6 separate regions of the Homo sapiens genome follow, and regions 1, 3, 4, 5 and 6 are each linked to region 2. The links come from fine-mapping of genetic effects on gene expression. A gene starts in region 2. Each other region holds a variant in brackets. All regions are shown on one strand. Distances are from middle to middle.

The links. PIP is the estimated chance that this variant, and not a neighbour inherited with it, causes the effect.
Region 1: its variant is the best candidate, but not a certain one, in a credible set for the expression of THBS4-AS1 in whole blood (INTERVAL, PIP 0.64).
Region 3: its variant is the best candidate, but not a certain one, in a credible set for the expression of THBS4-AS1 in visceral fat (GTEx, PIP 0.54).
Region 4: its variant is the best candidate, but not a certain one, in a credible set for the expression of THBS4-AS1 in prefrontal cortex (BrainSeq, PIP 0.77).
Region 5: its variant is the best candidate, but not a certain one, in a credible set for the expression of THBS4-AS1 in monocytes (BLUEPRINT, PIP 0.51).
Region 6: its variant is the best candidate, but not a certain one, in a credible set for the expression of THBS4-AS1 in whole blood (TOPMed, PIP 0.50).

What each region holds. Positions count from the first base shown.
Region 1 is chr5:80,115,980-80,121,340 of GRCh38, forward strand. It overlaps a transcript of SERINC5 not described here. Among named protein-coding and RNA genes, the nearest start is that of THBS4-AS1, 35 kb to the left of the region's middle. The variant A/ATT (reference allele first, on the strand shown) is at 2,735.
Region 2 is chr5:80,081,032-80,086,392 of GRCh38, forward strand. It overlaps THBS4-AS1 (THBS4 antisense RNA 1), which reads right to left and starts at 2,634. Exons shown (of 8, transcript NR_109930.1): 1 at 2,469-2,634; 2 at 1,329-1,506. THBS4 (thrombospondin 4) reads left to right here. Exons shown (of 22, transcript NM_003248.6): 21 at 1,375-1,514; 22 at 2,049-2,256. The coding sequence ends at 2,110. RefSeq lists silencers at 1,943-2,032, 3,148-3,362 and an enhancer at 4,795-5,089.
Region 3 is chr5:79,872,194-79,877,554 of GRCh38, forward strand. The region is part of intron 1 of LOC105379048 (a long non-coding RNA gene); the gene reads left to right. Among named protein-coding and RNA genes, the nearest start is that of LINC01455, 62 kb to the right of the region's middle. The variant G/A (reference allele first, on the strand shown) is at 3,371.
Region 4 is chr5:79,168,658-79,174,018 of GRCh38, forward strand. It overlaps the pseudogene RNY3P1. Among named protein-coding and RNA genes, the nearest start is that of BHMT, 60 kb to the left of the region's middle. The variant C/T (reference allele first, on the strand shown) is at 3,065.
Region 5 is chr5:80,122,907-80,128,267 of GRCh38, forward strand. It overlaps a transcript of SERINC5 not described here. Among named protein-coding and RNA genes, the nearest start is that of THBS4-AS1, 42 kb to the left of the region's middle. The variant A/T (reference allele first, on the strand shown) is at 2,724.
Region 6 is chr5:80,108,929-80,114,289 of GRCh38, forward strand. It overlaps a transcript of SERINC5 not described here. Among named protein-coding and RNA genes, the nearest start is that of THBS4-AS1, 28 kb to the left of the region's middle. The variant TC/T (reference allele first, on the strand shown) is at 2,757.

The sequences.
Region 1 (5,361 bases), 35 kb after region 2:
AAGGGATAGAAGATGTTAATTCCACACACACGTGAAAGAAATCAACAATCAGGCCTCATCTGAGAGAACCATGATGGGGAAGGCTGGGGCTGATGGATGAGGGGTGTGAGGCAGGGCAGAAAGCCTCCACGTTGCTGCAGCAATGCAAAAATAGGCACCTTGCCGTAGGCCTCTCTGGCACTCCATCTTGTCTCTCTTCCCTGGAGAAAAGGCAAGCTGTATTCAATCATCTTTTCAATGCTAAAACCAGGCTTTCCTGTCGGAGTTGGGGCCAGAGATGTTTCCATCCCCTCTTGCAAAAAGGGTATTCTTAAGAGGCCTTAAGTCTTCAGCATTGATAGTTTCTGGGAACAAAATAGAAATCAAAATCTCACCTTGTGTTCCCTTCCTCTTCCTGGACAGAGAATGGGACAGGCCCAGGCCATCCAGATCACTATGAACCTTATCAGAAACTTCAGTCCATTTTCTCCGTTCCCTTCCCTGGGACTTGCATGCTATAATCTCCATACCCCTCCTTCCCCACTCTCCAGGCTTAGTGGGTGAGGCAGAGAGTGAGAGCCAGGCTTACCTGCCTTTTCTCCTCAGTGGGAAGAAGCTCAGTAACTGAGCTCAGACGCTAGTGGCATACCTACCAAGAGGATGACATAAATGCCTCCTGTGGCCCTGAGATAGGCAGAGCTCTGCTGGCAGCCCAACCATATGTTCACTCGTTCATTAACAAACATCCACAGAGGCAGGCTGCTCTGGCCTGGAGGGGGATGTCCTACACTAGACGACTCAGGTTCATAGAGCCAGGCCTCATTCCACCCCCACTGGCTCAAGTGACTTTCTGGTGACCAGAAACTGGAGAGCTCTTTTTTTTTTTTTTAGACGGGGTCTTGCTCTCTCGCCCAGGCTGGAGTATACTGACACAATCTCGGCTCACTGCAACCTCTGACTCCCAGGTTCAACTGATTCTCCTGCCTCAGCCTCCCAAGTAGCTGGGATTACAGGCGAGTGCCACCAGGCCCATCTAATTTTTTGTGTTTTTTAGTAGAGACGGGGTTTCGCCATGTTGGCCAGGCTGGTCTCAAACTCCCGATCTCAGGCGATCCGCCCGCCTCAGCCTCCCAAAGTGCTGGGATTACAGGTGTGAGCCACCATGCCTGGCCCAGAGCTCTTAACTACAATGACTATATGCAGAAGAACAAACTAACACGGAAGATGGCTAGGAACTGCGTAAGCCAAGACTCTGCAGTAAGACACACTTGAGTTCTGGTCCTCACTCTGCCGTTTACTCACAGTCCAACTGCAGATGGGACCTCACCTCTCTGAGCCTCAGTTTCCTCATTTGTAAAATAGGCAAATATTGGCACCTACCTCATAGAATTAGTGCGAGGCTTAACTGAGGTGATCTAGGCAAAGCACTTAGCTTGGTACCTAGCACATATTAAGTGCTCAATAATAGGTGATGGTGATGATGTAAGTTGGACACAAGAGAAAAGGACACATACTAACTGATAATCACACAGAGCCACTGACTGGATTTGGTATCTTTCTCTGACATTCAGCTTTTCTTACCATCTGTCAGCATGCCACACTCCTTCAGCCTTGAATTATATGCTGCCTTGTGGTTTTGCTCTTATAAAACAAATAGAATGTACTAGTCTTCCTGTGGCTACTGAAAAAAAAAAAAAAAAAGACCACAAACCAGTGATTTACAACACAGAAAGTTACTCTCTCACAGTTCTGAAGACCAGAAGTCTGAAAGTACTATGTTGTCAGGGCTGTGCTCCCTCCAAAGGATCTAGGGGGTGATCTATTACTTACTTCTTCCAGCTTTGGGTGGCTGTCAGCATGCCTTGGCTTGTAGCTGCACCACTCCAATTTCTACCTAGTCTTCTTATCATCTCATCTGTGTCTGTTTTCTCCTCAGTGTGTCTCTTATAAAAACACTTGTCATGCCAGACATGGTGGCTCATGCCTGTAATCCCAGCATGTTGGGAGGCCGAGGTGGGCAGATCACTTGAGGTCAGGGGTTTGAGACCAGCCTGGTCAACATGGTGAAACCCCATCTCTACTAAAAATACAAAAATTAGCCAGGCGTGGTGGCGGGCTCCTGTAATTGCAGCTACTCAGGAGGTGGAGGCAAGAGAATTGCTTGAAACTGGGAGGCGGAGGTTGCAATGAACTGAGATCACACCATTGCACTCCAGCCTGGGTGACAGAGCAAGACTCCACCTCAAAAAAAAAATAATAATAATAACTTGGCTAATCCAGGGTGATCTCCTCAAATCAAGATCCCTAATTTCATTACGTCTGCAAAGTTAACATTTACAGTTCTGGAAATTAGGATGTAGACGTCTTTTTGGGAACCATCTATCTTAGACTGTTCAGGCAACTATAACAAAATACCAGATGCTGGGTAGCTTACAAACAACAAACATTTATTTCTCACAGTTCTGGAGGCTTGGAAGTCCAAGATCAAGGCACTGGAAGCTGTAGTGTCTGGTGAGGTCTTTTAACTATGTCCTCATTGCGGAAGGGGCCAGGGATCTCTCTTCCTTTTATAAGGCTTCTAGTCTCTTTTTTTTCTTTCTTTCTTTTGAGACAGGGTCTCACTCTGTCCCCCAGGATGGAGTACAGTGGCACAATTTTGGCTAGCTGAAACCTCTGCCTCCCAGGCTCAAGTGATCCTCCCACCTCAGCCTCCTGAGTAGCTGGGACTACAGGCGCATGCCACCATGTCCAGCTA[A/ATT]TTTTTTTTTTTTTTTTTTTTTGTAGAGATGGGGTTTTGCCATGTTGACAAGGCTGCCAGGCTGGTCTCGCACTCCTGGCCTCAAGCAATCCACCCACCTCGGCCTCCCAAAGTGTTGGCATTATAGGTATGAGCCACTGCACCCAGCTTCATTCATGAAGGTTCTATCTTCATGAACTAATCATCTCCCAAATACCATCACCCTGGGGGCTGGGATTTCAGCATATAAATTTTGGGGAGATATAAATATTCAGTCCATTACACCAACATTTGGTCCACTACTTGGAGTACCTAAGAACATGGACTTTAGAAGTAGACTGACCTGGATTCCAATACCAGCCCCACCATCACTCACTAGTTGGATGACCTTGATTCAGTTATTTAATATCTTTGAACCTCAGCTTCTGGAAAAGGGCCAATAATGCCAATAATGCTATGTCCCGGGGTTGTTTGAAAGAATTAAATAAGCTAATATGTTAAAAGTACTGGATAATTGGTAGCTCTCATTACTAGTGGTAGGTTTACCCCACTAGTCTACAAGCTCTTAAGAGCTGGAGTTATCTCTGCTTCCTTCACAAGTCTAGCACAAGTCTGCAAACAGTCTATCCTTAGTGAAGGTGGGGTGACAAACTGGCTGAACCAGTGGCCTAGACAGCCAATATCACCAATTATGTAAGATTCCACAGGGATCTAAAGGAGCGAATTAGAGGCACCCAATAGTGACCCCAATCTAAGCAGTGCAGGGATCAGCTGGGTGGGTTTGTCAGCAGAGAACAGGGCCACCAGGGCAGGCACATAGAACTAACTGCACTCACTGCACTGTTGTTAACTATTCTTTGAATCCCTCCACATGACGCCATTCCTACAGATGGAAGGTCAGCTACACTGGAGAAGTTCCAGAAATTCATAAATAGATTATGATCCCAAATCCCAGAGAGGAGGACTTTTCCAGATGGCAACTGGGAATTTACCTTAATGATTTCCCCATCCCAGAAGGGAAAGCTGTTCTGGTATATTACAAACATTACAGCACATCTGAATAACCCAGAGAGCTTGTTTAAATGCACATTTTTGGGCCTCTACCAGGCTGGTTAAACAAAGCTTCAACAGAGTGGGGATAGGAACCAACCATTTTAAATAACCCCCTTTGGTAATTCTGGTTCAACCATAGCAATCAAATTATAGTCCAACCTAGGTAGGGGCTTGCTACCTAGGAGTCAATATGTAATACTGGAAAGAGTAAGAGTTTGGAAACTAAACAGAAATAGGGTCCAATCCTGGGTCGTCCACATAATAGCTGTGGGACCTTGGGCAAGTTACTTCATTTTTTTGGATCTCAACTTCCTCTTCTATAAAGGGGGGGCTATACCTGTCAGGGTAGTGGTGTTAATTCAATGATAATTATGTAAAGTGCCTGCTCATAGTAGATTGAAGCAGAGACTGCTACTATTCACCAATCCATTTCTTCTTCTTGTTCATACACAACTAGACTATATTTCCCAGCACCCTTTGCAGCCAGGCACGGCCACACTAGTTCTCACCAAGGGGATATGGTTCTAAGTTATAGTACCTATTCTTGGCAAAGGCTTAAGGAACAGATATGCCTCCTCCAGGTTTTCTTTTGTCTTACATCACTTGGATGCAGGTGACAGGTTCTAGGGAACTGGGGATCTACAACATGGAAGGAGCCTGTATGCCTGAGTTACTAGGTAGGGGAAAGCTATCCATCAACTAGAATGCCTGCCTTGGACTCTTCTGCAAACGAGAAATAAGCTCATATACCATATTAGGTTATAATATAGTTGCTTTAAAGAAATACCCATGGCCAGGCGTGGGGGCTTACACCTCCCAGCACTTTGGGAGGCTGAGGCAGGAGGATCACTTGAGGCCAGGAGTTTGAGACCAGCCTGGCCAACATGGTGAAACCCCATCTCTACTGAAAATACAAAAAATTAGCCAGGTGTGGGGGCAGGCGCCTGTAATCCCAGCTATTCGGGTGGCTGAGGCACAAGAATCGCTTGAACCCAGGAGGCAGAGGTTGCGTGAGCCGAGTTTCAGGCTGCACTCCAGCCTGGGGGACAGAGTGAGACTCTGTCTCAAAAAAAGAAAAGAAATACCTGCATTGCTATAAAGAAATACCTGAGACTTTAATTTATAAAGAAAGGAGTTTTGGAGGCTTTTTCTTTTTTTTGAGACAGAATTTCGCTCTTGTTGTCCAGGCTGGAGTGCAATGGCGCGATCTTGACTCACTGCAACCTCCGCCTCCCAGGTTCCAGTGATTCTCCTGCCTCAGCCTCCTGAGTAGCTGGGACTATAGGCATGTGCCACCACACCTGGCTAATTTTATATTTTTAGTAGAGATGGGGTTTCTCCATGTTGGTCAGGCTGGTCCCGAACTCCCAACCTCAGGTGATCCGCCCACTTTGGCCTCCCAAAGTACTGGGATTACAGGCATGAGCCAACGCACCCAGCCAAGAAAGGAGTTTGTTTGTTTGTCTGTTTTTCCAAGAAAGGAGTTTTAACTGGCTCATGATTCTACAGGCTGCACAAGCAAGGTGCTGGCATCTGCTCAGTTTCTGGGGTGGCCTAAGGGAGCTTTTACTTAAAGCCAGAGCAAGCATCTCACA
Region 2 (5,361 bases):
TCGGGAGTTAGGAGGCTTAGGGCTGTGTCTTTGAAATGTAGATAGTGTTCTTCTTCATTTGAACTTGCAGATCAACACCCATCCTAGCCTATGTAGGATATTTAGGAAGGAGTACTGAGTGCATTCTCCTCATCAGGGCAGGAAAGCAGCCTTGTGGAAAAAAGAAAATCATGAGGGCAAATTCATGTTTTGTTTCTCTTTGTGACATTATGTCAAATGTACTCTTTTTGTCTCACAGTGAGATGATCATGTTCTCAGCCCTATTAAGCCCAATGCCCCTTTTTTATTATAAATATTTTGAAATGCCCCCTTTTCCGTCCCAAAATGGAATCATAGAAATTACAACCTACCTACACGTATAATCTAGAAAATCAATGTGAGCCCTAACAATATCATAGAGAAATAAGAATAATTTATAACAAAATAATTTAAATATTTGAGCACAGCCACACCAGAAGACAAAATGAAACAGACACTTGCACCCATGCCTAGAATCACTACGAAGGTGACATTCTAACAGACTGTTGTGTCAGTGACTTAAATGTTTGTTACACTGGTTGATGACAGCAATGTAAATTTCTCAAATGGTACACATTTTAGAATGTTAATTTTCAAACAAATTTTCTCAATTTACCCTGGAAAATATAGTTTATATTAAAATTTGTGCAAAATATACTTGCTGTTTACAAGTGAAAGTGAGTCAGGTTCTAGGCCCTGATAGTTGCTCTTTACCTACCCTGGTGTCTGAGGAACACTCCAGAAGTGTATGGAATGCAGGACAGGTTTTGATTGTTCTCGCCAGGGCATTGCTCGCCATCCAGCATCCCTGGCTGCCATCACTCAGTGCCACTGTGACAACCCAAAGTGTCCCCACAGATTCCTCCAACTCTACTTAGGGAGTGCTGTCTCCTGTGGAGAATCATTGCTCTGAGATTCCACCAAAAGATATAAATCAGACCAAAGGAAAAGCCAAAGTTTTTAAGCATGGTATCTAGACAAGGCAACTCACATGACAATAAGACACAAAACTTTCTCACTCAAGATAGCAGGTTTGGTTTGGTTTGATTTTTAACTCAAGTTTGATAGTGTGACCAACATCATGTTAGGCCTTGTGAGAGACAGAAGTTGGGAAGAAACACCCCCCACCCCCCTCCACACACACACGGACACACACGGTCCCTGCCCTCAAGGACTTCCAGTCTAGTAAGTAAGTGGCAACAGCTACAGTACAATCCAGGTCAGCGAAAAATGGAGCCTAAAACAGAGCAAAGAAAGACGCAGGTACGTATAAGAAGTGGGGCCCCTGGGCCTCACAGTGGGCACTTTACCCCGGGTTGGATTTCATGGAGGCCCCTCCGGCCGTGTTGTCCGCAGGGTACGATTTTATGAAGGCTCTGAGTTGGTGGCTGACTCTGGCGTCACCATAGACACCACAATGCGTGGAGGCCGACTTGGCGTTTTCTGCTTCTCTCAAGAAAACATCATCTGGTCCAACCTCAAGTATCGCTGCAATGGTAATGTGCATTCTCGTTACTGTTCAACATTGTTACTAGAATTAGTCAAACACTGCCACCTTATTTTTATACCGCACTTCCCCCCCAAAAGCCCAACGCTCATACCACATAGTCATTAAAACCTGATAGTCCCTGTGTACCAGAAGTAAAAAGCAGATCACATTTATCCTATTTTATCCATGTGGAAATTAAGACCCATAGAATTTAACTGCATGGTTTAGGGTTTGGGGTTCAGTGAGAAATCCAGTCAGATTTAATTTACAGGAAGCCTTTATTTTCATGTGGTTAAAACATAATCACAGATGCAAAATCCATTCTGCCTGCTGATTTTCTGCACGGCCGGGAAGGAGCACTCCTGGGCTTTAAGCCAACGGTTTGCAAAGCAGCCTGCAGGAGAAAATGGCGGCGAGGGCCTGCGGGGCGTCCTGGGCGGGCTAACAGCGCCCCCTACAGGACGCCTGAGCCGCGGGCGGGGGTCCGGGGTCCGGGGTGGAAGGAGCCTCGCTAACCTCCCTGTGCCCATTCCTATTGCAGACACCATCCCTGAGGACTTCCAAGAGTTTCAAACCCAGAATTTCGACCGCTTCGATAATTAAACCAAGGAAGCAATCTGTAACTGCTTTTCGGAACACTAAAACCATATATATTTTAACTTCAATTTTCTTTAGCTTTTACCAACCCAAATATATCAAAACGTTTTATGTGAATGTGGCAATAAAGGAGAAGAGATCATTTTTAAAAACCGTGTTGCTCAGACATTGCTCTCACGTGGCTCAGGCTTTGAGGTGCCCGTTCTCGGAGGGATCCCTGTTAACTTGCAGGGTGGTAGTTTCTTCTCAGACCCGGTGGCCGATAAGATGAGCCTATGCGTGAATCACAAGGCCCAGGCCAGAGGTCTCAGCTGGGGTCCCCCCAGTTTGCTCCATACAAAACGCCTAACCGTTCCATGCTCACCTTGGCAGCCTCCTTATTTCGGGTAAGGGGTCTCAGAAACACGTGTTTGGGGTGGCACCTTCCCTAGGGAGGCGTTTTTCTGACCTAGTCCTGGGACAGATTTGCCCAATTCTTTCTGATGCTGTCATCCCATCCCACACCTTCCACAGACTTCTATTCTGGCCCCTTCAACGTAATTCTTAAGCTTATTTATATATTTGGCTCCCCCTAGTGGACTGTAAGCATATTGACAATAAAGGATCATGTCATTACAATCAATATCCCCACAGTACCTGGAATGTAGTAAATAGCCAGTAAATGTTTACTGAATTAATAAACGAAGAATGAATGAATGAATGCCTCTTAAAGGACAGTAGAGTGTACATGATCATAAAAGTCCTCCTCAACTCAAAAAGTCACAACATATCCTCTATTTGTGGTACCAGTAGCTGGATGTACAGCACAGAAACTTGCCTAATTTGTACACTAGCCTTTCTTGTATTTCAATTGTAAATCAAGATCCAAGCAAATTTTTATAAATTCTCTAGAAATTTTGTTTCAAAGAATATTGCTGTGCGGTTATATATTTTCTTATTCCAGAATTCCTAGAGATATATTAAATCATGTATGAAGAAAAAAACACCACAGTTTTATCATGACTTTAACAGTGAGAAAATACAATGGTGCATGCATGAGATCTGGAGGATTTCTGGACATCCTCCTCTCATGTACAGCCTGGAGATGTGTGTGGCCTTGTAATCCAGGACATCTGATCTCCTACATCAAAAACTCCAATGGGGCCAGGTGTGGTGGCACTTGCCTGTGGTCCCAAGCACTTTGGGAGGCCAAGGCAGGCAGATCACTTGAGGCCAGGAGTTCAAGACCAGCCTGGCCAACGTGGCGAAACCCATCTCTACTAAAAATACAAAAATTAGCCAGGTGTGGTGCCACTTGCCTATAGTCCCAGCTATTTGGGAGGTTGAAGTGGGAGAATCACTTGAGCTGGGGAGGCAGAGGCTGCAGTGAGCAGAGATTGCACCACTGTACTCCAGCCTGGGCAATGAGAGTGAGGCTGGTGAAAGGAGGCAGCAACCCACACCATGCCCACCCCTGGGGCAGCCTCCCTGTTGTCGGCTGTGCAAGCCCAAGAACGCAGTATGTCCACAGGAAACAGACTCTCTTGGTTAAATCTTTTGTGTCTATAACTATTTTAGAAACCATGGGCCCACAGGAGATCCAGAACATAATTCCATCCCTTAGGGAGCTTATTACATTTTTGGGAAGACAAAACTTGTTATTTATGCAAAACAAGAAACAAAGACGCATGTAGAACCAGCAGTGTGCTGAAGCCAACTCCTACCAGCTCATAAGAGCCAACTATTCAAGTTTTAGGAATATTGTGAGCCAGTTAAACGGTTGGTAGTTTGAAATTGGCCATGGTGGGAGTATTTACACAGAAACTGGCAAACACTACAAATCAGGGCTCCAGAGAACTGGTTGTTAAATATTTATCAGCACACAAGTGATTATTCTACCTTGTCCTATTCCTAGTTGGCCCTCCTTATATTTTTGAAGCTGATGTAGAAAACTTGAGGCTTTCAGAAAATTTCTTGCATAAGAAATGAAGTAAGAAAAGTGAAAATGGGTGGGGTGCTATGGCTCACACCTGTAATCCTAGCACTTTGGGAGGCCTAGGTGGGAGGATCGCTTGAGGTCAGGAGTTTGGGACCAGTCTGGCCAACATGGTAAAACCCCATCTCTACTAAAAATACAAAAATTAGGCCAGGTGCAGTGGCTCCTGCCTATACTCCCAGCTCCTCAGGTGGCTGAAGCACAAGAATCTCTTGAACCCGGGAGGCGGAGGTTGCAGTGAGCTGAGATCGTGCCACTGCACTCCAGCCTGGGCGACAGAGCAAGACGTGTCTCCAAAAACAAAAACAAAAAAAAAAAAAAGTGAAAATCAGGAAGCACTTGAGAGAAGCTAGCCAGTTGCAGACTGACGGGATGAGCTAGCAGGTGTGGTATGCTCTCCCCCAGGTAACTCCCTGGGCTTCTTGGATACTTGTTATACTCAACCTTAGCACAATGACTCAAATTCCTATTACAGTTCCATTAGGTTAGTAAGAGCCTCATTTGAATCTTACACCTCTAGGACTGAGTGGCCATCAGTCTCTCACCAACTAGTATGAATTCATTCCAATGCCCATTCACCTCCTGACTTTTCATGGAGATCGAGAAGACTGAGGAGCTGGGCATGGTGGTGTGCACCTGTGGTCCTGGCTACCTGGGAGGCTGAATGGGGAGGATCACTTGAGCCCAGGAGTTCAAGTCCAGCATGGGCAACATAGCAAGATCCTGTCTCACTTTTTTTTTTTTTTTTTAAGTACTGGGGGAATGGGAGGCGTGGCTGGGAAAGAAAAGAGGCATTGTCACTGTGGGGGAATGGGAGGCGTGGCTGGGAAAGAAAAGAGGCATTGTCACTGTAGGGAAAAGATCATGGCTGAGTAGAATCCCACGGGAAGTGTGGGAGATCTCTGGGGGCAGGATGAGGGCACTGGGGGCAGCCAGAGGAGGCCTGGGGGCATGGGAGCAGGTGCACAAAGGGATGTGCAGCCCTTTTTGCCTACACTCAAGAAAAAGGAAAAAAAAACTCTTCCTTCTCCCCATCCAGGTTATTAGTCCTAGGCTCCAGAAGTATTATGGTGATTATCCTTAGGTTAATTTTGGAGACAGGCTATAGAGTTAAAGAGAATGAGGAAGATATAGAATCCAGCCACCTGCTATTGAAACATCTGTAGGCATTTTTTATTGCCTAGGCTAGAAGATAACTGGGAACAGACTCAAGCAGCAAAAAAGAATCTGGTCCAGAAGTGAGGCCGTGGGCAAACTAGATACTGTACAGCATAAATCTAGG
Region 3 (5,361 bases), 210 kb before region 2:
GAGGGCACTAACAGAATCAGGGTTCACAGGCTGCAGGAAGACAACTGAGAACACACAGATGGACTCTGGCTCTTCCCAGATGAGTTTCCTGACCAGAAGAGAACTCCCGCATAGAAAGGTTATGTGGGAAACACTCTGGTTTTTCTTCTCCTGCTGTGAAATCAATTAAAAACAGGATGGATATAAAATGGTTTTATAACCTCCTCCACCTCTGGCTTCCTTTCTTCTTGGGGATGAGCCAGGCAGAGTGGGGAGAGACAGGAGTCTCACGGTCTGCAAATTCTGCAGCAGTTTAAATGATAGTGACCTATTGCTTCAGCTCTCCTCAGGGGACCTGGGGCTGGAGGAGAAAATGTCTCCTTGGAAAGTGGCCAAAGGAAGGAGAGCCCCATAGAGGGAGTGAGGGTAGGTAGGGCCCAACCCTTCCAAGTTCTGGGTCAGTCTTAGGTTCAGAACGCATCTAACCTGGGGAAATGAGACAGCCAGTTTTGGAAGAGAGTTTATTTCCCACAGAACAATTCAAATGGCTTGTTAGCCTCGCGCACACTTGCTTGATATGACCCAACATGAATAATTTTCATTCCTGTTTTGATTTACAAAAAATGATAGTACATAACTTTTTTTGAGTACTACTCTGTGCCAGGAACATACTCAGATACCTTTCTTACGTTAACTGTAATTCTTATAACACTACTGAAAGTTAAGTACTATTTTCTCCTGTTAAAAATAAGGAAAATGAGGCTCAATGAGGCTAAGTAAACTTCTCAAGATCAGAGAGCTAGTAAGCGGCAAAACCAGCATCCAAACACAAGTTTGTTAAAATAATAATAGTTCTGACTTATTGAACTCTTCTGTGGGCTAGATATTTGACATACATTATCTGAAATCCTTATCACAACCCTGTGAGGGATTTTGCTGTAGCTCCATTTGACAGATGAAAAAGTCATATTTAAGGAAATAGTGCAAAGCCCTAGAACTGACTTGGTGAAGTCTGGCCTTGAACCTGGGTCTCTCTGGATTCTCTGATGCCTGTATTTATTCCAAGTGTGCCACGCAACTTCGGGGACCCAGAAAGGTGCTCTTGCCCTAGGTGCTTCCAGTGGGTGCTCTGGGACCAGCGAGGGGCCCCCACTGGTTGTCCGTGGTGATCTGAGGTTGAACTGAGCTGTACACAGAGCATGAGAGTGGCTTCTGCCAATACACATTGTTCTCCGCAGCATGTAATGTTTTCTAGGGCCTTGGCCAACTTGGCTGAGGCATTGTAGACATCTTGAGGGACTGGGTTCCGAGCATCTTAAACGGATCGACAGATTTTATCAGGAAGTACTGCTTCTTACCACAGAGCTGCCCACATTTTTCCCAGTGAAGAGTATTAGCTGGAACTAGGGTTCCAGCTATTTTTACACCCGATGTAAAATCATGTGAATGAGCTTCCATGGCTTACACATCCCTCCTTACTCGTCAGACAGTTCTGATCTGCTTTAGGCAACCCCATCTTCTCTTTATTCCTGTGTTATTTTCCAAGGCACAGCCACCCACAAAACATCTTGGGGAATCTTGATGTCCCAATCCACATCTTCGCTTCACTTACTTGCTTGCACCCTGAAATCTGTAGTCCACAAGCAACAGCCACAGCAAGACAATCCGAGATTGGGCTGGCATTGAGAAACGCCCAAAACATGTTTACATCTTGCATGTCTTTTAGGGCTCTTGTTAACCCAAGGAGAAAGAGCAGTATGAACACCGGTTTTAGAGAATAAATCTAAGACCCTGTTAGTGCCCGAAGCAGGATTAGAAAGTAGATTTTCACCGGATTCCATTGTCCCCAATTCTCTTGCTCCAGACCCTATTCTAAGGCATAAAGTTAGGGAAATAGCCACAGAGGCTCAGGCACATTGCCCTGATTTGAAATGTTTCCCTCAAGGGGTCCTTTCAGTTGTTCTGAAAACTCAGCCTGAAAATTGTAAATGCCCCATAAAGGCAAAGCTTTTACCTGGAACAATCCATTGCAGAAGAAGCATATTCCCTAAAGCCAAGGTTGTTGCACAATTTGAGCTGTCTCACAAGCACCAGCAACTAGTCATTCATTTATTCAAGAAATACATACTGAGTGGCTTCTAGGGGCCAAGTACTGCCGAGTACTGTGGACTCAGCCTAGCTCTCCTGGAGTGCAGAGTGCATCGGAGGAGTCAGTTGAACAGGAACTTTTAGTGAAGTGTGCGCTCTGGGAGTAGACAGCAGGGGGGCCTGGGCAACCCCAAGGTCAGGGTTGGCTTCTCTAAGGAAGTGACATTTAAACTAAGACCTGGAAGACAGTAGAAGCTGGCCAGGCAAGGATGACATGGAGTCCTCCAGTGTGGCAGCCATGAGTATGAGCCTCGCAGACCTCCAAGATGGAGGAACTTCATTGACCAGGAGCCCAGCTGCTGCACTCTGCAATCCATCACCATGCCTGTATGGAGGCCATGCTTCCCATAGGCTACACCAAGGCAATGGCTGAGGTTGGTGGGAGTGCCAGGGCAGCCTGTTCCTTGGAAGCCAGGACAACTCTGATGGCCACCTTTGCTCAAGAACACCCCCATAACGCTGCTGAGCTTCTTTACATTGCTGGGTGGTCTACAGTGTTTCTCTCCATCCTTCCTCCCATCTCTCCTTCATGTGGAGTCAGGCTTGCACCGTGTTCCTTATCCAACCTCTCTCCTCTCCTGCCTGCCATGGGCATGTGTGACATCGCTCAGGGAGGATGAGAAGCGGGAGGTGAGCTGAGCCAAGAGGCCAGGAAAGAAAAAAGGGAAAGGGCCCTGGGTAGAGCCGGGCAAGTTCTATTGTCCCAGCAGGAGGAGGAAAAGTCAGACAGGAGGAGTCAAAAGTTGATTCCAGGGGTTGTTTGAGATTAGAATCCTGTCCCTTCTTTTTAAAATTCCAGAATGGCTCTGGCTAAAAGCTTCCTGTTTCAGGACAAAGTCCCAAAGGAACTTTTTTGTAAAGCCATCTTGTAGATCACCTATAAAAGCTTTGTCCTTCCCTAACATTTATATCCTTACAGGTATCAGAAGAAGGTGGCTCTCCAGAGTGTCACCTTGGCAGGGCCAATCCCAGTCCTGACTGGGGAGAAGCCCAGGTGCCAGGAGTGTTGTTACTGCGGCAATGGACGCTGCAGTCTGCCGGCACCCGATGCCGCTCACCAGCTCCATCCTTCTAATCAGCAGCCGAGGCTCAGATTCTTCCCAGCTGCATGGGGAGACTGTCCTGCTCGGGCTGCTGTGAGTCACTTGGCAGATCTAGTTCTCATTGCACATTAATGCATTGGGGATTTTGTTTTATTTTTTTAAAAATAAAAGAATAACATTAACATCAAGGGAGGTCATCA[G/A]AGAGAAAAAGAGTTACAAAAAGGCAGCATGCGGCCTGTGCGTGTGAGGTGGAAGGTGGAGCGGGGGTGGGTTTTGGCCTTTAGGTGGGCATGGCTGCCCCAGCCAGGGCTTCAGTGGTGCCTTTCACATCCATTCTTTATCTATAGGATGCCTGGGGATTAGGTAGGAGTGCCAAAACACTGCAATTATAAAAAGAGGGAAAAATGACCCTGTTGGTGATCATTTAAGGAAGTATTTTAGGACAACTGAAAGGAAATAGATCTTTACACAGCCTGTAGCCTGTAAGTGGAACCCATTACCCCCATTAGGTGTTCTGCATGGAAGTAAAAAATGGGTCCGAGAATAGGTCAGATAAATTCACAGATATTAGATGTCATGGTCACTAGGATCAGCCTATGAAGAGCAAGTTACCATGTTCCCATGAAAATGTTACTGCTGCCCCCAGAGGACCTGTGCTCCAGCCACATCAAGCTCCTAAATATTTCTGGAACAGTGAGTCTTCTTTCTTGAGTCTGTGTCTTTGCCATGCCGTTGCTTCTAGGTTCCCTTGCCACTTTTTCCCAAGAGTGGTAAACTACCACTTATTCTTCAAGATCCAGTTCAAAGCCTCCTCTAGAAAGCCTTTCTTGAATCCTCTAGGGCAGGGGTGGTCACTCCTCACTCTGTGCCCCCAAAGCCTGCTGTACCAAGCACACACACAAAGCTACCACTGCACTATAATTGTTTGTCTGCTCAACTGGACTATAAAATTCTCCAGGGTAGAGATTGTGCCTGATTCATGTAGCTTAGCAGAGAGGCTGGCCTGCAGCCTCTGTGCAGGAAATACATGTGAATAAAGGAATGAATGTTGAGTTACATCAACCAATGGTCTCACCACTTAAAGGACATATTCTTAATGACATTCTCAGAAGCTTTGCTTCTAATATCACTTGGACAATACTCTTCTGCCAGGACATATTCCTGTTTATCTCAGCTAATATATATGCTAGTCTCCAAAGCAGCCATCTGTGTAGTTGAAGTGAAGTAGCCAAGAGAATTGAGATTTTAGTGTCTTTAACTTAACTGTGTCTCTCAGACAAATGAGCCAGTTCCCCAGAAATCTGGTCTAGAAACATTGCCAATGCACATTCCAGTGACTTTGAGATGTTAGAAAAACAGACATATCACCTTTCAGGCTGAAATCACTGGGAAGTGCATTTTAAAGCTGGGTTTCCTTCCAGATCCTTAGGTTGTGAATGACACACAGTCTGTGGAAAATTTATGAGATCACCAAGAAGCCGAGGTCTGAAGTGTTCAAGAAGTGTTTAACCACAGATCAAACACAACATTTGCGTGTTTCTGAAAAACAACAACAACAACAAAAAACCACCAAACAGCAAACAAAGGTCTAATGATCAAAATGGTGTCCAACTCAAACCAATATGAGGGGTCTGCTCAGGCCCATATGTAGAGATTCTGAAGATGATGAATTGTAGGAAGAGAAAGGAGAGTAAGACCCTGGCAAGTATGGGAAAATCCAAGAATAATGAGGGGTGCTGCTCGGTCAGTTAAATAACTATCCCTAGAGAAAAATTCCTGGAAGCCGAGAACCTTGGGTTTCAACCCCAATTTACATCTTTTTAGAAAATCATTTGAACTTAACTTTCAAATGATTGACTGCAAAAATTTGTTAGTCAATTTAAAAATATCTATACATGCTTTTATGTGTGTGTGTGTGTGTATGTGTGTGTGTGTGTGTGTGTATTTTTAGTAGAGACGGGATTTCACCACGTTGGCCAGGCTGGTCTTGAACTCCTGGCCTTAAGTGATCCACCCGCCTCGGCCTCCCAAAGTGCTGGGATTACAGGCGTGAGCCACTGTGCCCAACCTACACGTGCTATTAACTTAAAGGCAAATGTAAAGTGTTTTGATGGGCCGCAATGCAGCTTTTTATTCAGAAAATAGCTTTGGGGCAGCTAGTATGTCCAGGGCCCCTGACTGGGCCCTAGAG
Region 4 (5,361 bases), 910 kb before region 2:
CATCTTTACTAAGAATACGAAAATGAGGCATGGTGGCGTGCACCTGTAGTCTCTGCTACTCAAGAGGCTGAGGCAGGAGAATAGCTTGAACCTGGGAGGTGAAGGTTGCAGTGAGCCAACATGGCACCACTGTACTCCAGCCTGGGTGACCGAGCAAGACTCCATCTCAAAAAATAAAATAAGATAAAAAATGAAGTAAATTTGAAAGATTACATTTCAAAGGAATGTGAACACCTTGACATAGAATAAATACCTTTAACTTACTAAAAGACAATAGGGGTGATTAATTAGATTGCTTAATCAGATTAATTCAGTCTTCATGCAAGAAACATCTTCAAACTGCTTTAGATCGAAAGGACATCTTCCATCATCTTAACCGGTTTGTTTGCCAACATAGGATTTAATTTTCTGTGTAGGCCTCTGCATTTTACCTATCCTTCTCTCCATGCATACTATCTGCCTCCCAAGCAGACAGCTAAATTTGATTTTTCCTAAATATTCAAAAAAATATCTTTCAGGCTGGACATAGTGGCTCATGCCTGTAATCCCAGCACTTTGGGAGGCCAAAGCGAGTGAATTGCTTGAGGTCAGGAGTTCGAGACCAGCCTAGGCAACACAGCAAGAGCCCATCTCTACGAAAAAAATAAAAAAAGAATTAGCTGGGTGTGGTGATGTGCACCTGCGGTCCCAGCTACACAGGAAGCTGAGGCAGAGGATTTCTTGAGCCAAAGAGGTCAAGGTTGCAGTGAGCCATGTTCACGTCACTGCACTCCAGCCTAGGTGACAAAGCGAAACCCTGTTTCCCCTGCACCACCCGCCACTTGCAAAACACACACACACACACACACACACACACACACACACACCAAAAACTTTCATGTCTTTTCAGTTAACTTTTAAACAAGCCCAGCAGGATTGAATTATGTGGTATAATTTTAGGGACATTTCTGCCCAGGTTCATGAGTTTATCCACCTGCTCTAAAACCTGAAAGACCTTGATCAGGAATCAAAGTGATATATGCTGTACTTGGAGACAAAGCTTAAAAGACACATCCTCAAAGGAAAGCAAAAACATTTATTTAAATTCATTATAAAATATTATCTTCCCAGGTGCTCTATTCAATTTCTTCATCACCATCCACACAGAGAGGACTCACAAATTTATATCTCCAGTGCAAGGCTCTGTGTCCTCAGGTTTCAAACTCGATTATACAACTCACAACTTGCCTTGTCCTCCTGGGATTCTCAAAGCCATCCAAACTTAACATGAGTTCATGCTCTCCCCACTCCCCACACTCACTGATACTCCTAACTTGGTTTCTATGGTCCCGTATCCCAGTGAGCTAGTCATCTGGTTGAACAAGCCTGAAAGGCAGAAGTCATCCATGACAGCTCTCTCTCTCCTCCATGCCCACACCATCCCTCAATTCTGTCAGAACTCTCCAGTGTCTTCCATCTTCTCCATATCATTCAGCCAAACTTTGTCTAATTTAATAACCTCCTAACCAGTCTATCTAGAGCCCTTCTAACCCCAGCCACACCTATATAACATATTAGAGCAAAAGCTCATGTTTTTCAAAGGTTAGTCAAGTGAAGCAGTGGGAGTGGAGAAGGAACAAAGAAATCTGTAACTGGTTGTGATCAATTAGTTGTAAACACCACTGCACTCAGACCAGCTGCAAAATTTGTTGTTGTTGTTGTTGTTTTGAGATGGAGTTTCACTCTTGTTGCCCAGGCTGGAGTGCAATGGCGCAGTCTTGGCTCATTGCAACTTCCAATTCCCGGGTTCAAGCAGTCCTCCTGTGTCAGCCTCCCAAGTAGCTGGAAGTATAGGTGCCCGCCACCATGCCTGGCTAATTTTTGTATTTTTAATAGAGACAGGGTTTCACCATGTTGGCCAGGCTGGTCTCGAACTCCTGACCTCAGGTGATCTCCCTGCCTCGGCCTCCCAGAGTGCTGGGATTACAGGCGTGGGCCACCGCACCCGGCCTGCAAAATTTTTAATACATATTATACTCCTTGACCTCCACTATCACAGAAACTTTGCTATATACTGTTTTCTTGACTTAAAACACTATTCCCTCCTTAATAACTCCAACTCCTCCACATTTCTGCTCAAGCATCAGTTTCCCAGAGAAGCTTTTATTGGCTTTTATCACCAGGTCAAATTCCTATCTCCTAGTACTTTGTACAGTCCTTCATAGTGCTCATCAAGTTGGAATCTGACACATATATATGTGTTATTATATCATCTCCCTCACTAGTCTAAGCCATAAAGTCATGGATCATGTGCAGTTTTTTTTCTCCCCACTGCATCCAAACACCTAGCATAGTGTCTGGTACATAGAAGTGGTCAAAAAATATTTACTGAGTAAATAAATGCATAAGTTAAAATATAAATAACCAACATAAAATCCTTTTCCAAGAATAAGTTTTTATGACAGATATCAACCAGCAGAAAAATAAAACATTTTCTAGAATGAAAGAACATATGAAAAATGCCTGGCAGATAATAGGTTCACAATTTTGTAAAAATTCATCTGCTTTATGATTTTCATAGAGCCAATATCTGCAACCTGCCTTTCTATGTATTTATGGAGAGCAGGACCAAAGCAACGTAATTTGCTGCTAGGATGCCAGTACTAAAGTGTTTCTTTTTGTCTGTTCCTGCTTCCTGAACATATTTTGCTTTGTGTAAATTTACTATGACCACACAAAACATATCAGACAAAATGAAAGACAGAGTTGCAAGAATTTCCAACTTGTTAGTTGGGTAGGATGCCTTGGAAAACAAAGTACAGGGCTTCCCACTATATATAACCAACTGTCTAGTCTTAAGGTGAAGATAAATAATATGTTCTAGGAGCTGGGCATGATGGCTCATATTTGTGATCCTAGGACTTTGGGAGGCCAAGGCAGGAGGATCGCTTTAGCCCAGGAGTTTGAGACCAGCCTGGGCAACATAGAGAGACTCAGTCTCTTAAAAAAAAAAAAAAGAATATCTTCTAGAAAAGGAATTATCTTTAAATACTGTACAGATAATTCAGGATTTCAAGTTTAGTTT[C/T]CACAGTGTGTGAGTGAGACACTCAAAGGGATAGAAGATGAAATGTTTAATCTGCGTGAGTTCGCTTAAGGACACATCCCAATAAGGAAAAGCTGTGGGGCGTATGATTGTTTTATAAAACAGTGCGAAGAGAATTGTTTGGCACTGTTTGCACATGACAGGCTCACAATTCATTTCTTTAAATATGAAGCCCCAAATCAACCCATCTAAAATTATGTTTCCTACCAAGATTGCTTAGTTACTACACATAGGAATGTGCATAGGCCTGGAGGCAGCACTCTCAGCTCTTCTGAGATAATCAGTTGCTCTTTTATTTACAAGAATCCTGGTCAAGACACTCCATTCCTGTCCCATTTCTCTGCCACTAATTGACTCTGTGGCTGTAACAGGGTCTCAGTTCTTCATGTGTAAATCAAGGAGATTGGATTTTTTTAAGTCCTTAAAGTTCCCTCCAGCTCCCAGTCCTTTGATTCAGGCCTGAATTCTAGCCAGTAGAGTATCAAGCCACCTACACGGTTTGTCGAGTTGCACGAGCATTTAATGAAGAGTTTCCCTACTCTTTGGAAGAGTCTGTTCATAGGAGAAATTTATGCCACCTTAATAAAATGAGCAGAGGAGAAACCTGTTATTTCCTCATAGGTGCATAAGCAGCCCCGAAATGGGAGCTGACTAGAGGGGTGGGCTGGGAGACAGGAGTCTGCAGGGTCAGGCTGCCATGAGGTTGATAGGGAAGTTTTGCCCCACTGGCCAGATTTCTCTTCACTATTGCTGCATGCAGGCTGCTGAGCTCACTGGTGTCACATTCCTCAGCCTTGATCCTCAGGACTCAACCAAAGAATATCAAGATTTCCACAGCACACTTGTCTTTTTTCTTTTAATGGAATGAATGATGCCATACATTTGTCATGTTTATAGAGCAGCCTTCCCTGCATTAAAACACACACACACACACACACACACACACACACACACACACACACATAGATATAGATATAGATATATCCCACTGGAGGCTTTTTATAAAAAAAACAAAACAAAAAACCCACAGATATATCTATTTTAGATAGATAGATAGATAGATAGATAGATAGATAGATAGATATAGATATATAGATATATTCTTCCAAGTAACACTCTGGCAGGATTATCCCACAACAGAAAGTGTCAAAGGCAAAGAGAAATGCCTATACAAGAAGAACTTTTTAAAATAGAAAGCATAGATTCAAACTGCCTCAATCACTGTGGGCTTCCTTCCCTGGCAGAGGAGAGACACTTCCTTCATTCCTTTCCAAATAAAGCACCTTGGCTCTATTCAAGGCTTTACTATGGGCAGGAAGACCAATGGCAACTTCTTGATCTATAGGAAAGTTTTATTTGTTCGACTGACCTACCAGAAAAATATTCTAAATTGAATTACTTTGCCATGTTTTATAGATGATACATAAATTGCCTTGCCCAGGATACTTTTTAAAAAAAAGTTACACAAAACAGAGCATGTCAAAATAATTTTCAAATATAATACCTATAAGATGGCTAAAATGTAGCAAAGTATAATTTGCCTAAGATTGTAATATTATAAATTGAGACATGTACTTGGCTATAATCTACATTTGTCATTTCTTGGACAAACTTTTGGTTAACTCTCTTCTAAATTACGTTTGCCTATGTGTCTTGAATTAAAAAATGGCTTTAATCGTAAATAAACATGAGAAAAAAGTATTTTTCTATTTCGAAAGCCCACAAGGCCGGGCGTGGTGGCTCACATCTGTAATCCCAGCACTTTGGGAAGCCGAGGCGGGTGGTTCACGAGGTCAGGAGTTCAAGACCAGTCTGGCCTATATAGTGAAATCCCGTCTCTACTAAAAATACAAAAAATTAGTCGGGCATGGTGGTGGGTGCCTATAATCCCAGCTACTTAGGATGCTGAGGCAGGAGAATCGCTTGAACCCAGGAGACAGAGGTTGCAGTGAGCGGAGATGACGCCACTGCACTCCAGCCTGGGTGACAGTGCAAGACTCTGTCTCAAAAAAAAAAAAGAAAGCCCACAATATGAACTCATTCTTTCAGTATCCAGTCCTACAACCTCACCTGGAGTATTTTTAGCCTAAGCCAATCTTTCAATATTTACTTTGTGTATGTAAATAACAATGTTCCTGTAAGTAGTGCTACTTACATTCTAAAAAAGCCTTGATTCTAATTGCCCTAGTGTTGTCATTCACGTCTTGAGGGTTCCAGCTCAAGTTTCCTGCGTGACTGGAGGCACCGCCCTCATTCTATTTGATTCATTATGAATAACA
Region 5 (5,361 bases), 42 kb after region 2:
GCCTCCAGGTAAAAGCTCTGCAACCAATACCTTGATTTCCAGCCCTGTGCTATTCCTGAGCATAGAAATCAGGCAAGCCTGCCTGGACTTCTGACTACAGAACTGTCCACTAATAAATTTATGTTGTTAAATTTGTGGTGATTTGTCACAGCAGCAATAAAAAAACTAATACATTCTCTTAATCTGTTTTGTCATCAATTTTTCTTTGAGACGGAGTCTCACTCTCTTTCCCAGCCTGGAGTGCAGTGGTGTGATCATAGCCCATTGTAACCTCAAAATCGTGGGCTCAAGCAGTTCTCCCACCTCAATCTCTCGAGTAGCTAGGACTACAGGCACATGCCACCATACTTGGCTGATTTTTTTAAAAAAATTATTTTTTATGTAGAGATGGGGTCTCACTATGTTGCCCAGGCTGGTCTCAAACTCCTGGCTTGAAGAGATCCTTCTATCTCAGCTGGGAGGATCCCAGGATCCCAAAGCGCTGGGATTACAGGCGTGAGCCTCCATGCCTAGCTTCCTCACTTATTTTTTATTAATAAAAAGTGACATGGGGAGATGGTGGAAGTTAGAGTGATGATATCTGAGTATGCTCTTAGCTTTACATTTGCTCAGTTCCTTGTGCTGAGTTGTCTGTTAGGGAGCTTCCTGCCCTTATAGTGAGAATGTGACATAGTCTGGGCATCAGCTGCAGCTCTTTGAACAGAGATGATCCAGCTCCCCATCTCACCAGCCCCCAAATCCAAAACTTAAAAGCGGAGCTGCTGTCAAGGAAAACAAAGTTAAGCAAAATGACTTCAAAGCCCAATGTGCTCACCTTCACTCTCCCAGTGGGTCCTTGCACCTGAGAACGTGCAGGGTCCATCAGTATTGACCTCCCCTTTCCACCAGCCCTGGAAGTTATGGAAGGGGAAGGTAGCTTATTCTGATATCGTGTCCTGTAATAATGCTTCCTGGCCTGGCACATATATCCTTGTTTCTGTGCCTCTTGTTCTAAAACATCCTCCCTTTCCGAAAGCTGAAACTGTTCCTGCACACATTATGCACTTAACCAGGTAAATTTCAGAAGATTTTAAAAAGTTTCCCAGTGAAGGAAGGAGAGAGAGGTATTGTCCTGAGATACTGAATATGCGGATGGCCAGACTAGATATCAAAATAGAACCCTGACCCACAATCTGTGGCAACTAGCCTGGGAAGCCAACATATTATCTGCAGTAACCAATCCAGGAAGCAAAGCAATAACCCCCTTAGCAATGGACCCCAAATGGCCAGGACTCGATTAATAAACTGACAGCTCCCATAATTTTTGCCCCTACCTCCAACTTTGGACTAACCAGAGAAAGCCAAATGGGCACCCCCAACCAATCACATAGCATGCCGCACTTCTAGCTGGCCCACTTGCAGCTTCCCCGTGCCAACAGTCTCAGGGCACGCCCAAAGTGTTCCCTTTTTTCTACCACAAGGCTTTTCCACACCTCTGCCTGCCTTTAAGTGTCTGCCAAACACAAGTGATGGTGGCTGACTACCTTGCAACCTCTCTATAGTAGGCTTTGTTTGTTCTTATTTGGGTGGTCTTCATTTATTTCCACAGTCCTTGTTTTTCAGGGAGATTTAGGGCTTAAATACAAGGAAATTTCATGTAAGGATGCAGGAGTGTTTCATGGAACCTCAAGCTCAGGAAAGCTGCACAGCCATGGGAAGACCCTAGAGCCGGAGTCTGGAAAAGCAATCCGAGCTTGGATCTTAGAAATCTTGTCTTCTTGCAAACCGGGTTCTCTGGTCCAAATGGCCAAAAACATGACCATGGACAGGGCCTGTGCTTATCTCGTCACCTGCAGAGAGGCAACTCTCTGTACGTCCTGATTCCAAGTTCCTGGAGAAGGACACAGACTGAACCACCTTGGGTCAGGCACCATCCTTGACCAATTTACTAACAGTGCCCAACTCCCACCCAGGGTGGGGAGTAGTTGCAGGTAGTCTTGTTTATGAACATGGCAATCAGAAGCCCATCCCTGTCACTGTGTGGAGGGGAGGGGAGAGAAGAGGGATGGTTCCAACCAAAAAAGGTAGGGGGATGGACATCCCAATAGGGGTCCACTCCATTCCTGATGGCACAGTGAGACAGTTGTCATGTGTCACGTGCTAGACTCTTGACTCTGTGCCTCCCAGTACCTGCTACTGACCAACATGGTCTAGTGAGCGATTTTTCTTGTGAAGGCATCCATCCATTCATTCATTCATATAGCAAACAATTGTACATCACAACCTTATGCTAGGTGCTAGGTATACAATGATAAAACAAACACAAAAACCAAAACCACAATCTCTACCCTCAATGTGAGGAGATACCACCACATAAACGAACAATTACAATACTGTGAAACATGTTATGCTCAATCTATGGCCTAAATCAGATGAGAGGCTGGGCAGAGGATCAGGCTGCCAAGAAATGCTTCCTAGAGGGCATGCTGCCCGAAATGAACCTTGAAAATCAGGGAGCTTGATAGAAATAGGGAAAGAGAGAGTGTTTCAGGCAGAAGCAAGGTTCACTGTCAAGGAAAGGCATTTCAGGAAACCAAAAGTAGTATCTGTTTGACATGAGCTATATTGGAGTGAGAGTACTGGGAGGTAGGCTAGAAAGGGGAACAGAGACTAGATATGAAGGAACTTGAAAGCCGTAAGTATATGAAGAAGGCAATGGGCTTTCTACACAGGAATGACCTTGA[A/T]GACTTGATTTGCATTATTGAAAGCTCACCATGGCTGGAATGGATTGGGGACGTCCGATGATGGGAAGACTCAGCTGGGCAGTTGCTGCATTAACTGTGGAGTTATAATGGTGACCTACGAGAGCAGCTTTGGATACGGAGAAGAGCAAACTGGTTTAAGAAACGTCATCACCTGGGTCAAGAAAAGGACATGCAGTGGGTTGGGTAGGGAGGAAAATAGATGTAAATAAAGTTATTAGTTGAAAAAGAAAAGCAAGATCGAGAGAGAAATTAATTCTATTGCCATCTATTCATGAGAATCACAAGGCTGAATCAAAAGCCTTCCTGCAAACCTAGACTCACGCTGGTTCAGTTCAGAGACTCTATCAGAAAGATGAGGAGCTCATGAGTCATCCATCAATGTGATCTTGTGATTTTTCTTGTGACCACAAGACAAAGGAAGAGAAGAGTACTTTGGAGTCATTATGATGAAAATTCAGTTGAATACACTGGAAAGTCAAAACGAGAGGAGAAGGAGGAACCGAAAATCTGATTCAGTCTTGACCACCAAGTAGAATTGGGACAGAAACAATTAAGTAGGCACAGATCCAATTTGGATTATAAAAAGCTGGTTCATCAGGAAGGCCACTATAAAACCAGAAGCAAACGAAGAGTCAATTAAGTACAAAAGTTTTTACTATGACTATGCAGTGAGGTCCAAACTGTACTAAATTTGAAGTTCCCTGCCAAAGAGAAATGTAAGCTTCCCTGGTGGTATAAGTCAGAATTTCATGACATCAGCCAGATAACCACAAAAGAATATATCTTTTAGTGCTAGATGCTTCTAAGCCTTTCTCCACCCAACTAACCAACATTCACTTACTGATTTACTTATTTCTTTAACAAACACACTCCATTTCATAGCCACATTCTTTCAAAGCTGACAGGTTGAGATATATCTAAAACACAAAATCTCCAACATACATTTTCTTCTTCAATGTTGTGAGATGTATTTTTCTAAAACACTGTTCTGCACATACTACCATTCCAATATTAAAAACAAGTTAGTTATCCACTGCCTTTTTTGTACAAATGAAATTCATAAATTTTAATTTGGTTACAAAAAAATTTTTCATCAAAATTTTTGCTTATTTGTTTATATAAAAATGGAGACAGGGTCTCACTATGTTGCCCAGGCTGGCCTCAAACTCCTAAGCTCAAGTGATCTTCCCACCTTGACCTCCCAAAGTGATAGGATTACAGGCATGCGATACCAAGCCTGGTATAATTTAAATTTTTAATTAAAAATTGTTAATTTGTCTACAAAATAAATATATACTCATCATCAAAAACTTTCAAAGAAGAAGATTAAAATCACCATAATTCCAACACCCAGACACAATCACAATCACTTCTGTAAGTTAGGATATACTGACAGCCTATGTGACAGGGAAAAAACTAAGTTGTAAGAATTTTTTAAAAACCTCCTATTCCCCATTACAGTAGATTTTATTACTCAAAATATTTGCTGCCCCACCCTGGGGAAGATAATACTTCCCCACTTCATTGCATCAGCCTTAGAGATGTGGTTTGAGGTGTCCCTTCTTGTGGGAGGATTACATATTCTCATCTCCTTGACCTCAAGAGTGGCCATGAGACTTGCTTTGACCAATGCAATGATAACAGAAGTGATGTGTGCCACTTCGAAGCAGAAGCTCTGATTCATCATATGGTTCTACTATGTTCGTTCTCTCTTCCATGAAACCAGCAATATCCCAAATACAGACTGCTGGTCCCAGGATGGAAAACTTAGAGCAAAGCTACCGGTAGCCCACAATGTGAGCAAGAACTGAACTTTAGTCATTGTAAGCCACTGAGGGTTTTGGAGTTGCTTGTTACCACAGCATAACTTAGCCGACACTGACTGATACCACCTACCTCCAAAATGTCATCTGAGTTTTCTTTATGTCTGAAGAGAGCCTTTATGCATTGAAATAAATACTCCCTTTAATTTCAACTTATATTTTATATATTTAAATTATATGTTTTAAAACTTAATTTTGAAGACTTTAAACTTGTGTTAATTTATAAATCAGTTTTGTTAATATTTTATTATCTACTTTTATTTGGTTTTGATGAATGCCCAACTGGCTTGTAAATTTGATAAGGTACTCCCAAATATTTATCAAACTTTCAGAATTAAGTTTTAGACATTTCAAACTACAATCTAATTTTAATTGATTTCTCAAGGAAAAAAACAACAAAGCAGACTCACATTTCTATAGGCAAAATCTTAATAAACACTGAAAACATACTGAACTTAAAAAGTTTAACCTTACAAATTTAATAAATTATAAATTTAAAGATTTAACAATTTAAACATTTGAACATTATTTCAAACTTAGTTATCAACATCTTATAAATTTTTACTAATATTTTGAGTCTAATGAATCAGTCTCTTTACTTACCTTAAAAAGCAGAAAAATATACACAAAATACTATAATGGTTACAAAACTTATTTCTAGATAAAATTTATGACTAGACATAACTTAGCTTGTCTTCCAAGGGTCTTTGAAAGTATGTTTGTTTTCTGGCAATAAGAAGATATTTCCAGACTCATCTTGATATTTCCTGCCGTAAAACATGCAATGAATTTTT
Region 6 (5,361 bases), 28 kb after region 2:
CTGCAAGCCAAGGAGACAGGCCTCAGAAACCAACCCTGCCAACACCTTGATCCCTGACTTCCAGCCTCCAGGACTGCAAGACAATAAATGTCTGTTTAAGCCACTGGTCCTGCAGTAGTTTGTTATGGCAGCCCTAGCAAACTAGTATAAAGTTCTATCCATATGCCCCTGGGATGTGTTTCTAAGCATTCATTTTTAAAATGTAACATTTCTTAAAAATATACTGTAACATTTTAACTTGTTTTGGCATTTCTGCTTTTTTTTTTTTTCATGGGACAGTCTTGCTCGCTCGCCCAGGCTGGAGTGCGGTGGCACAATCTTGGCTCTCTGCCTCCGGGGTTCAAGCGATTCTCCTGCCTAAGCCTCCTGAGTAGTGGGGATTACAGGCGTGCACCACCAGGCCCGGCTAATTTATATATATATATATATTTTTAGCAGAGACAGGTTTTTACCATGTTGGCCAGGCTGGTCTTGAACTCCTGCCCTCAAGTGATCCACCTGCCTTGGCCTCCCAAAGTACTGGGATTACAGGCATGAGCCACTGGGCCTGGCTGGCATTTCTGCATTTTTAATACCTTGGGAACAACCACCACCCCTCAAAATGACAGTGGCTCATCTTTGTCAATTATACCTTAATAAAGCTGGAGGAAAATTAATAAAATGGACTACAAAAGAAGAAGAAGAAGAAGAAGAAGAAAAGAAAAGAAAGTAGCCCAAGTTCTCTGTACCTCCCAGATGCCCCAGTGAAGGGCCTCAGCTGTGATGAGAAAACCCAGCAGCCCAATTCCTGGCAACTCTCCTGGGATCTGGAATGATGGTGTGCCTGGGCACAGCCTTCCTATCTGGCCCGAGAGCCAGCTGGCACCATTGGAGTGAGGAGAGGGCTCTGAGCTTTCCCAGTAGGCTGGCAACCTCCCAGGCTCCCTCCCCCAGCCCCTATAAAACCATCTGGAAAATGAAAATAATACCTTCTGCTTCCTACCAAGCTCCAGGGACCCTGTGAGGAACAGGGAGATACTATCCCCATACCCCACACATTCCTGGAGGAGGTTGCCCTGGAATAAGCTATTGCCCCGCCTCTTTCACCCCAAGTGGCAGAAACGAGGGCCACTCAGTGCTCTGTCCAGCTGCTCTTGCTTCCCCTCAGGAGCCACTTCTGCTTCCATCCCACCTGATTGGAGTGGGCTTCCCACAGGCCCCCGCTCCGCAGCTCCTCAGTGCTCTCCTCCTCCTCCCTGCTCCCCCGAGCCCAGCCCAGTCTGAGGTCCATCCCCCTGTGAGGGGAGCTGAGCAGTGCTGCAAACTCAGTGCTCCTGAGTACCCTGGGGATTTGCTGAACTGCACATTCTCATTCTGTAAACCGGAGCTGAGCCTCTGCACGTCTAACCTGCTCCCTGGCAATGCTGCTGTTACTGAGCAGAGTGGAAAAGTGCTAGACAATACATTGGGGGGAAATTTCAGTCTCAAATGCATTGGAGCAGAAACCAGAACTCCCTGTCAAGCTGCTCTGTGGGTTTTTGAAGCGAAGTGTGTTGCTCTTCACTGGCTGCTCTGAGCTGCTCAGAGCGGGGGACAGAAGCTGGGTCTACCCGAGCATCTGTCCAGCCACATCCCCTCACTCTTCAGGGTGGCACTGGGCACACAGCCCCAGAGTCAAGGTGGCATTTAGCTGGGCCTTCAGTCCGGCACCAGCAAGTGCTCTTTAACTTGGGGTCCTTGGAGTCCATAGGTGGGCACAGCTCAATTTGGGGATGTACCTGAGAAAAATGCTTCCCAGATGGGCTTCTCTGCCCCATCCCTCTCTCCACCGGGCCTGGCCAGACCCCAGGGTGAATTGTTCTAATTCCTTGCACTTTTTCCTGGCAGGGTCTCCAGGCTCATGAAATCTGCCTCTTGCCAAAGGCAGAGGATCCACTGGCAGCAGGGAGCACTGGCTGCAGTCAGGCAGGTGCAATCATTTTTTAATGACATCTTTTCCCCCTTATCAAAATTGTGCAATTCACTTTAGAATATTTAGAAAATATTGGAAAATGTAAAGAAGGAAGTAATCCTGCAATCCTACAACTCAGAAATGATGTTTCAGCACTTTGGAAAATATCCTTCCAATCTTTCACATGCACAGGTGTGGTCTGTATACGGCACTGGAGATCCCCAGCACCAAAAAGTTAACACTGTAGGAAAACTATTTATCCATGTCAGTTATTCTTTGAAAGTATGATGTAGGGGAAAAAAAAGGGGGGATCAGACTGTTACTGTGTTGTAACCGAGCGAGTTATACAGAAACGCCACACTCTGAGACGAATTGAGGAGTCCTTTATTAGCCAGCGACCGAGAGACGGCTAGTGCTCAAAATTCTCTCGGCCCTGAAGAAGGGGCTAGATTTTGTTTTATACTTTGGTTTAGAGAGGGGAGGGGGAGCCTAGCTGTAGCAGTCTTACAGAAGTAAAACAGGCAAAAGAAGTTAAAAAGACAAATGGTTACAGGAAAGCAAACAGTTCCAGGTGCAGGGGCTTTAAATCCATCACAAGGTGATAGACGCTGGGCTTTGGGTGCTATCAACCAGACAAAAACACAGGGGCTTAGGGTAATATCAACTGGACAAATTCCTGGGAACTGCGGACATAGCTTGCCACAGCATGTTATCAGTTAATTGCATTCTTTGATGTGCTGGGAGTCAGCTTGCACAAGTTAATTCCTTGAGGAAGGGGGTGGGTAAGGAGCCCTTGATGTCTTGCAAATGAAGGAGCCAAATGGAG[TC/T]CGTTCAGGTTTCTCAGCTAAGAGAGAGTCAATCAGGTTAATACAAGTTAGGGTATCACAAGTGTGTCTATTTAGAAAAGGAAGACTTAAGAAACTCCATTTTGATCTGTACCCTGAACAATGGTTTTGCCTTGAGATGCTGTTAATCTGTAACTTTTCTCCAGCCTTGTGCTCACAGAAACATGTGTTGTATGGAATTAAGGTTTAAGGGATCTAGGGCTGTGCAGGATGTGCCTTGTTAACAATATGTTTACAGGCAGTATGCTTGGTAAAAGTCATCGCCATTCTCCATTCTCGATTAACCAGGGGCACGATGCACTGCGGAAAGCCGCAGGGACCTCTGCCCAGGAAAACCGGGTATTGTCCAAAGTTCCTCCCCACTGAGACAGCCTGAGATATGTCCTCATGGGATGGGAAAGACCTGACCGTCCCCCAGCCCGACACCCGTGAAGGGTCTGTGCTGAGGAGAATTAGTAAAAGAGGAAGGCCTCTGTCTCATACCGAACGGAATGTCTCGGTATAAAACCCGATTGTAGAAAACCACACTGGCAGGAGGCGAGATATGCTGGCGGCAATTATTCTTTATTCTGTTATTCTTTACTACACTGAGATGTTTGGGTGGAGAGAAGCATAAATCTGGCCTACGTGCACATCCAGGCATAGTACCTTCCCTTGAACTTATTTGTGACACACATTCCTTTGCTCACGTTTTCTTGCTGACCTTCTCCCCACTATCACCCTGTTCTCCTGCCGCTTCCTCTTGCTGAGATAGTGAAAATAGTAATCAATAAATACTGAGGGAACTCAGAGACCGGTGCTGGTGCAGGTCCTCCGTATGCTGAGCGCCAGTCTGCTGGGCCCACTGTTCTTTCTCTATACTTTGTCTCTGTGTCTTACTTCTTTTCTCAGTCTCTCGTCCCACCTGACGAGAAATACCCACAGGTGTGGAGGGGCAAACCACCCCTTCATGTGATGTTTAGGCCGGGTGCAATAGCCCGCGCCTGTAATCCCAGCACTTTGGGAGGCCGAGGTAGGAGGTTCACTTGAACCCAGGAGTTCAAGACCAGCCTGGGCAACATAATGAGACCTCATTTCTAAAAAATAAATAAATAAATAAAAATTGTTTTAATTAGCTGGGCATGGTGGTGCACACCTGTAGTCACAGGTGCTCGAGAGGCTGAGGTGGGAGAATCAGTTCAGCCCAGGAGTTCAAGGCTGCAGTGAGCTGTGATCGCACCACTGCACTCCAGCCTGGACAATAAAGTGAGACCGTGTCTCAAAAATAGTATGATTTTTTTAATAGCTGCATAATAGTCTCCCCTATGGATATTTTTATTGTTTACTTAATGCTTGCCCTATTTGGGGCCATTGAAGTTGTTTAATTCTTTTTCCAATATAAATAATTTTATTCTGGCCATGTTTTTATTGAAATCTCTAACCCTATAATCTCTTTTTTTCCTTAGAATAGGTTTCCAGGATTGGGATATTGGAACAAAAGGTTAAATATTCTTAAAGTTCCTGATAGATGTTGTTGAATTGTTTCCAGAAAGCTTCAACAAATTCATCCCCTCTAGCCATAGTGCCTGTTTCAAGAAATGATCAGCATTGTCCATTATCTTCTTTTATTTTTTCCCAATTTGGTAGGTAAAACTAGTATCATTTCTAGTCTGCATTCTGCTTGACTCTCGTGTGGCTGAACATTTTTTTCTGAGTGGCATAGCCATTCATGTTTCTTCTGTGACGGGTCTGGACACATCCTCAGTGCTCTCATTTTCAGGAGAGCAAGGATGGGGAACGAGGGGATATGCATTGTATTAGTTTGTTTTCATGCTGCTGATAAAGACATACCAGAGACTGGGAAGAAAAAGAGGTTTAATTGGACTTACAGTTCCACATGGCTGGGGAGGCCTCAGAATCATGGCAGGAGGTGAAAGGCACTTCTTACATGGCAGCAGCAAGAGAAAAAGAGGGAGAAGCAAAAGCAGAAAACCCTGATAAACCCATCAGCTCTCATGAGACTTATTCACTATCACAAGAATAGCACGAGAAAGACCGGCCCCCATGATTCAATTACCTCACCCTGGCCCCCTCCCACAACATGTGGGAATTCTGGGAGATACAATTCAAGTTGAGATTTGGGTGGGGACACAGCCAAACTATATCATGCATCACCACCTGATGGCACCCACCCATAACCTCTGCCATGCTGTGTGCCCCCCCACCCATGCCTGTGGGCGAGGCTCCCCAGGCCTGGTGCCTTTGCTGCCAGACTCTGGGTACTTCCATTCACACTCCCATCTCTGGGTGTCCTCAAGATAACCCGATGTTCCCAGGATCCTTCCCTCAATTAACAATGACCTGCCCTAGCCCCATTTCTTCAGCACCGTCTCCATGCTAAGTTACAAGGAGTGGGCCCAAACAAACAACTGAAAGCTAAACGTCTTCACCTAACCAAAATGTTGGCCGTCTGTATTAGTCTGTTTTCATACTGCTATAAAGACTACCTGAGACTGGGTAATTTATAAAGAAAGGAGGTTTAATTGACTCACAGTTCTGCATGGCTGGGGAGGCCTCAGGAAACTTACAATCATGGCAGAAGGTGAA